2 linked regions of the Homo sapiens genome follow. The protein of the gene in region 2 purifies or fractionates together with the protein of the main gene of each other region. This does not show direct contact. Each region holds a gene or a part of one and is shown on either strand. Other genes may lie near its edges.

Region 1 (3,748 bases), on a different chromosome or scaffold from region 2:
TGCAAAACAGAATTAGAAAAGATGGCAACATAAACCTTCAATTATTATTTAAGAATGGTATGACCTCAACCAAAATCAGATTTAAAAAGAAATATCAGAATTTTTTTTTTTTTTATTAGGGAATCCTAAAAAAAAAAAATTACCATTTGGAATACCTGCTGCACATTAACTTTGAGGGTCGTCTTGGGAAAAAAAATGAGTAATTATTCTTGTCTGGCTTTGTGAAATTTTTCAGAGTAATATCACTAGGAGGAAACTGGATATAATTTGGTACTTTCTCATATGGCAATGACATGAAGTAATAAATGGCAAGTGGGAAAGGGGAAGGAAGAAGAAAAAAGTATAGAATAAATCATAACAGGTAAAAAAAAAGTTTTTTTTGTAAAGAAGGGATAAGGAATTTGAAACTGTAAGAATAGAGTATCAAATTATATATATATATAACAATTTTCTATCTTAAAAATAAAACTGGAATGTTATTTCACTTAAAATGTACAGCATGCAAAATACTCTGTAATAGTAAAAAAAAAAAAAAGAAAAATACACCAACGTAAAGTCTCACAATTTTCCAGTAAATGAGATTTCTGGGTCAAAAATCACCATTACAAACCCTTTAACCAAGGATTTATTTTTTGTTTCCAGCATTACAATTTGCAATAATTCATAGATTTCCATTCCAGTAAGTTTTAAGACACAGATCTCACACAGGCAGTTGGGTCCACATGTTAAGAACTCATTAATTCAGCAAAGAGATCACCCAGCCGCCATTCTCATATGAACAATGCTCACTGCTACCTGAACATTTTAAAGTATGTTATGAGTTGTTTTGATGATGACAGCTGCAGCTTTTCACCACATTTTCAATTACTGAATTGCATGTTTTTTTTCCACCTTGATAACTTAGGGTCAGTAGAAAGCTATTTACTTACATGTTATAGTCAATATAACTATACTAAATGCCCATTTGTAACTGAAGAAACTCACAGACACAGTATGAACTATATTATACAAAATCATGACCATGAGTTTCAGTGAGAGATTCTGTCTCTCTCTTAAAGCAAGAAATATCCCACAGCTCAGATTTACATAAGTAGTGCCGCCTTTTAAATAAAAGTCAAATGCTGTCCTGCCTGTAAAATTATAAATATTTCTAACCCACTTTACAGAATTTTAAAATGCTTATAAATGCATTATCTTCCAGTAAATAAACATTATGGTACTGAACCTCATTTAAAAAAAAGTCATCACACTGGCCCATGGAAATATCTAGGACTATATCTCCTAACATTAGAAAAATTAAACCAAATAAGGGGAAAAAAGCAAAGAAGAAAAAAGAAATTTTACAAAATGGCAACTACTATGACCTAAAAGAGTGTACTGAGATGTCTTCATTCAATTCAGTAACTAAACATTTCTGGAATGAACATTTGTAGATAACTAGGTAAGGAGAGTGATTCTCTTAGCACTCAGGTCAAAATCACAAGGTATGGAGAAATAATTTCCACATTCTATAAGGAAAGACAGACTTTGAAACGGAGTGACTGTTTAAAAACCACATACCAAGATTTAGCCAGAATATTGAAGATTGGCAGATCTTGATGGAGTGAAATCTTCAGAGGCAACAAATTAAAAATCATGATCCTATGGATGCCACTTATTTTTACCAATGTGAAAAAAGGAAAGATGATTGCAAAGTACAGTATACACTGAACAGGTGAAATATGGGACATTATGAACAATTTAAATAACCAAAATGTTCCCTATGGAAGCATAAAAACATGATTTTCAAATTGATTCAACTTGTAGTGTGTCTGTTAGATGTAAGTAGTAGTTTTAGTTCTGTGTCCTGCTGAGTTGCTCTTTACATAAAATATTTCCTTCATCTTAAAAAAAAGGCTTCTGCATGGCACTGAGTCTTTCAGTGTAGGAGAGGAGGAAACTTTGTAGAGTGGACGGACAAACTTGTTTCCAAGGTCCCCACCCAGGTGATTCATTCCATCAAACTCACAGTATCTCCAAATCTACATGTCGAACTTCAGGATTTCGTTTCTGGAAAGAAAAATCACCACCACATTATTTGTAGCAAAATAAAATCTTGTTTCTTTTTATTCCTTTTGGTCATTAGAGCCAATGAAAACATTTGCAAACTATTTCACTATAGCATACTAATGAGAGAAATAGTTGCATAAGAAAAAAAGTAAGATCAATAGGTAAATAGACATACTATAAACAGTACAATAAGTAGTATCACATTCCTAAGTTTGTTCATGTGTTTGTTAATACAAAAGTGCATTAAGGATCTAGTACATGCCAAGCATTGCGAAGCACTGGAAATACACATTTTTGTGTGGTGAAAACAAAATCACTGCAAAACAATAATAATCAAAAAGAGTAAATTGACAACCACTCATTTTATATACTTTAGCAACAATCCATATATTCTTGGGCCGGGCCCTGTGCTAGAAAACAGAGCTATGATTATTAAATAAGACTCTGTTCCTGACCCTGAGTGACTCAGTTTAGCTAGGGAGACCAGCATAGCAGTAATCATCTACAAGTTAAAGTATTAGAGCTAATAATAAAAAGTTAACATTTATTGCTTACTCACTCATGTATCAAGTACTGTGTTACATGAGCACATGTATGTGTGTTTTAAAAGCCTCATAACCTAATTACTATTTCCATCTTATACATACATCAGGGAAAACTGAAGTACGAAGAAATTAACTAACCTGTCTGAAGTCACACTGCTAGTAAGTGATGGAGCCAGGATTGATTCCAGGCCTGACTCCAGGCCTGATTCCAGATCCCAAGCTCCTATTACACTGTACTAAATAATAACACTGGGAGCAAAAATGAGACAGCCATTTTGCTCATGAGATCTAGAAAATTTCACTGAGGATATAATATCTAAGGTAGGTCTGCATATGATGAGCCTTCCAGGTAGATAATGAAGAGTGTCTAGACAGAAAACACAACATCAGCAAAGTCAGACAGCCTGCAAAGTGTGCACTGGCACTATGGTATAGCTAGCACAGAAGCTGCAAAAAGGGTAGGGTTGGTAATGAGGCTGGAAAGACAGGCAGAAATCAGGTTGTTAAAAATCTTATATGCTAGCTTAAGGAACTTCAATTCAATAACAACCAATACTGTCTACTATTACATGCCTACTCTGTGCCAGGCATTGAAGTGTATATGACAATGAGCTGGGAACAAACAGTATTTGCCTTCAGTGGACTTACGTTTGGTAGTGAGGTGATATAGGTAAATTAAGTAGGCAATTACAACACTCGGCTACCACAGAGCAAAGTAAAGATTTTGGGTTTCTTTTTCCTGTGAGTGCACAAAGGAAGGGCACCTGGCCGGGCGCGGTGGCTCACGCCTGTAATCCCAGCACTCTGGGAGGCCGAGGCGGGCGGATCACAAGGTCAAGAGATCAAGACCATCCTGGCCAACATGATGAAACCCCATCTCTATTAAAAAGTACAAAAATTAGCTGGGCATAGTGGCGCATGCCTGTAATCCTAGCTACTCGGGAGGCTGAGGCAGGAGAATCGCTTGAACCCGGGAGGCAGAGGTTGCAGTGAGCCGGGATTGTGCCACTGCACTCCAGCCTGGCGACAGAGCGGGACTCCATCTCAAAAAAATAAAAAAATAAAAAATAAAATAAAATAAAGGAAGGGCACCTAAATCAACTTAAGGGGAATTACAAATATAATAAAATGTAACATATTAATACTGTGAGAAG
Region 2 (3,748 bases):
GCGGTGGCTCACGCCTGTAATCCCAGCACTTTGGGAGGCCGAGGGGGGGCGGATCACGAGGTCAGGAGATCGAGACCATCCTGGCTAACACGGTGAAACTCCGTCTCTACTAAAAATACAAAAAAATTAGCGGGGGCTGTGGCGGGCGCCTGTAGTCCCAGCTACTCGGGAGGCTGAGGCAGGAGAATGGCGTGAACCCGGGAGGCGGAGCTTGCAGCGAGCCGAGATCGCGCCACTGCACTTCAGCCTGGGTGACAGAGCAAGACTCCGTCTCAAAAAAAAAAAAAAAAAAAAAAAAAGATATGGGGGAAATTGCCATTTCTGATGCTTAGGCTCAACAAAGTATGGACATCCATGCGGGAACACAGATGAACCAAGGGACCTGCACTAATGCTCCTGGACCGCAAGGGGAAGCGCAGCGAGGGCTGTTGGTCTAGATTTCTTGAACTTTCTGAGCAGCATTCCTTCCTTCTGGGCATGGAGCAGGACCCTCCTGGAATGGGGTCTTATGCCCTACAGTCAAACAAGAGAGGTCAGATAATTTATGGCCAGCTTCTAAACACAAAGGTGGAGGGAAAGTTAGAGCAATATTTTTAGGTTTGATGTCTGGCTGTGTGGAAAGGCGGGGTTCTGATTTCTATGACCTGCCCTGGGGAAAATGGATTCCAGTTTCTAAGGCCAGCTTCGGGGAAAATGGCACTGAGAGACAGGAGAGCAAGAGAAGGTCAGAGAAACACTTTTTCTTCCGAAGCTGCTTCTGAGGCCTTCATTTTGGGGTATTGTTTTCTGATGCCCAACATATCTGAGCTGCTGAACGAAGGGTAGCTGCTGAACCACTCCCACGGTGACTTGGAATGGCTTAGCCAGCCGGCCTTGGGCCACCTGGCTCTGGCCCCCCTGCCCACCAGGACTTTGGCCGGCTCTCGCTCGCCTCTGCGATGTCCGTCCCACCCTGTCTCACCCCTGCAGTTTTCTGCTCTGTGGAGCGATGATTGACACATGGCAGGGGGACACTGGTTTTGACATTTGAGCCTGTGCCCAGCCCTTGCCTGGGGAGGAGGTGGGGCAGGAGTCCTGAATGAGCATCTCCCTACTTAGTGACAGTCAGGGGCACGGAGAATGGTGCCCAGGCCAAGGGCAGGGCTTGGGCCAAGTGTGCGCAGCGTGGGGTGTGTGTGCTCCAGCGGCTCCTGCTGCGGAGGGCGGCATGAGGCTTGTTTACCTGTGTGCTGGCATCTCTGGTGGCCCCTGCAAGGGTGGGGAAGTGGCAGGCAGGGTGAAATGGGGAAAAGTGGGCTCTCAACTGCTCCTAGCAGCCTCCGGGTCTGGGGAGGGAAGTGAGGAGGGGCCCAGAGCTGTCTCCTGGTCACTCTTCTGGGGCTCTGTGCAGACCTTTGGCAGGGCCAGGCTACACCACACCCTCTACAACCTCCCCTGACTTCTTCCCCTAACCCCTCACCACCATTCCTCCGCTTTTCTCTCCCCGCCCCTGCCTCCCCTCCATTCTCTCCTTCCCTCCACCTCCCGGTCCCATCCCCTGCCCACACTGCCCCTCCTCAGGCCCAAAGTGGACACCGGTGCTGCCTGAGGGTCAGAGTGTCCACCTCCAGCAGCCCGGGCACCGGGCAGGATTCAAGCTGGAGGGGGCTGGGGCGGGCGAAGCCGGGCACGGGGCGAGCCCGCTGGTGGGCGGGGCAGGGGCGGGTCCTTCGAGGGGAGGGGCGGGCTCGGCCAGTGAGAGCGCAGAAACCGTGGCACGGGCGCTCCCGGAACTGGCGATTGCAAAGCGCGAGGGCTGGAACTCAGACCCAGAGGGGCGGTCCCTGTTGCAAGTCATCTCCCGAAAGGGCGGGGCCGGGGCTCATCCCGGAAGGACCGGTGTCTAGGTCACCCTGGAGCGCTCACCCCACCGGCACCCGTGCCCAAGCCCGCCCCTGCAAAGGCAGGTACTCGAGCACACTCCGGAGAGGGCGGCCTCTGAGCCCCGAACCCCGAACTCCGGCGCAGCGTCGCACCTCTGCCCAATGAGGTGCCCCTGACGTGCCTGCTGCGGCTGCCCTGCTCCCCCCAGCCTCCCTGCATCCCGGGATGGGGGAGGGCGCCAGGCGCAGCTCCCGGACCCTCAGGGGTCTCCCCGCCCTACCCCACCAGCCTGGGTTCGGTACCTCGGGGCTCAGATGTGCAGTCAGCTGTTAATGTGGCAAAATTTGGGGAAGTCCTCTGCAGCCGCAAAATCCAGTTCCCACCAGTTGGAGGCCGGGCGGGGAAGGGTGGGGACAGACAGCACTCCGCTGTGGGAGGTAAGGCAGAGCTACTGGGGAGCCTGGAAGGCTGAGCTATGTCTCCCCTACGCAAGACCATTCCAGAAGCCCCTTGGAGCTCTGGCTGCTGGCCACAGGGGAAGGTAGACCTTCCCTGAGAGCTGCACTGTGTTGGGGACAGGGCCACTGTGGGCCTACGGAGGGCCTCCAGGCACAGGGACCCACATCAGCCCTCTGGCCACAGAAGGCGCTGATGATTTGAGGTGGACTCAGCCACCACTCCGAGCCTCTGCCTCCCTCTAAAAGTGGGGCATGGCACATTCCTGTGTCAGGCAACCAGGCACTGAGCCTGGCCCACCTGCAGGGGTCGGGGGGAGCAGCTTGTCCCTGTCTCCCCTCCCCGGGAGGCTGTGTGCCTGGAGACCAGAGCTGTCAAAAGTGGAGGAGGGGGACCCCCTGATGTGTCCTCTAAGGTCCAGGTAGCAGGAGAGCTCCACTGGGGAGGGGGTCCTGCAGTGCTGTCCTCTCTTGCAGGCAAGGCCAGGCGGGTGCTGCCTGGGACCCAGTGACTCAGCACCCCTGCCCGGATCAACTGGACTTTTGCCCCCTGCTCCGCCAGCCTCCTGCTTGGATCTCTCCTGGGTCTCCCTGCTGCGCCTGTCCAGGATGCAGGGAGCTCGGGCTCCCAGGGACCAGGGCCGGTCCCCCGGCAGGATGAGCGCTCTAGGCCGGTCCTCGGTCATCTTGCTTACCTACGTGCTGGCCGCCACAGAACTTACCTGCCTCTTCATGCAGTTCTCCATCGTGCCAGTGAGTAACACACCCCAGCCCCTGCAGCCCCAGCCAGGGCTGAACCGCTGTTCCTCCTGCCCTCCATCTGGGCCGTCGCAGAGAGTGGGGGTGGGGGTTTCATGCTGCCAGGGCCCCTCCCAGTTGGGACTCATGCCACGCTTAAGCTGAGTAAGTTAAGGACTCTGCCTCTGGACCCCCGTCAGCACATCCTGTGCTCCAGCTTCAGTGCCAGCCCCGGGAGAAGCCATGGGGAGCCACCCCACTTCCCTCCTGGGGGCAGCACCTCCTCAAACCTTCCTAGCGCTGTTCCTCCTGCCTCTCACCCGGCAGCCTTTGCCCTCTGGAGTCCCTGCCCCAAGGGCTGTTCAATCCGGTGTGGCTCTGGGCGGATCACCCCTCAGAGAGGCTCTCCTTGCACCTGCCCGCAGCTTCTATCTCTCCCCTCCATCTTCTTGGGTCCTTGTTGTCCACTAAATGATCTGTGGCGGCAAATTGATCTCAAGCTTTTTCTTGCAAGAGATAGAATGCTGTCTTATTTTATTATCTCTGTTGCCAAATGCGGAAACATTTCATTGGCAAATTCATGTTAGTTTAGTGTATCATTCAGTAGTCTATACCACAGTGTGTGGCTCTGGAAGCTGTAATAGTAATGATTAAATTATATTCACCAAGTCTGGAGAGGCTTGGGAACAAAG

The links.
Region 1: the proteins of SLC67A1 (region 2) and SLC30A9 purify together in Homo sapiens (affinity purification with mass spectrometry; 2 studies listed by BioGRID and IntAct, with this or other methods). This does not show direct contact.

The regions. Positions count from the first base shown.
Region 1 is NC_000004.12:42,084,383-42,088,130, reverse strand, and holds part of SLC30A9 (proton-coupled zinc antiporter SLC30A9, mitochondrial), read right to left. Parts: intron 2,050-3,748; coding exon 2,005-2,049; 3' UTR 1-2,004. UniProt on the Homo sapiens protein: Mitochondrial proton-coupled zinc ion antiporter mediating the export of zinc from the mitochondria and involved in zinc homeostasis, zinc mobilization as well as mitochondrial morphology and health.
Region 2 is NC_000011.10:2,900,419-2,904,166, forward strand, and holds the start of SLC67A1 (solute carrier family 67 member A1), read left to right. Parts: upstream 1-1,859; 5' UTR 1,860-1,946; exon of another isoform or gene 1,947-2,177; coding exon of another isoform or gene 2,178-2,300; intron 2,301-2,795; coding exon of another isoform or gene 2,796-2,927; coding exon 2,928-3,071; exon of another isoform or gene 3,072-3,157; intron 3,158-3,748. UniProt on the Homo sapiens protein: May act as a transporter of organic cations based on a proton efflux antiport mechanism. May play a role in the transport of chloroquine and quinidine-related compounds in kidney. Plays a role in the regulation of lipid metabolism.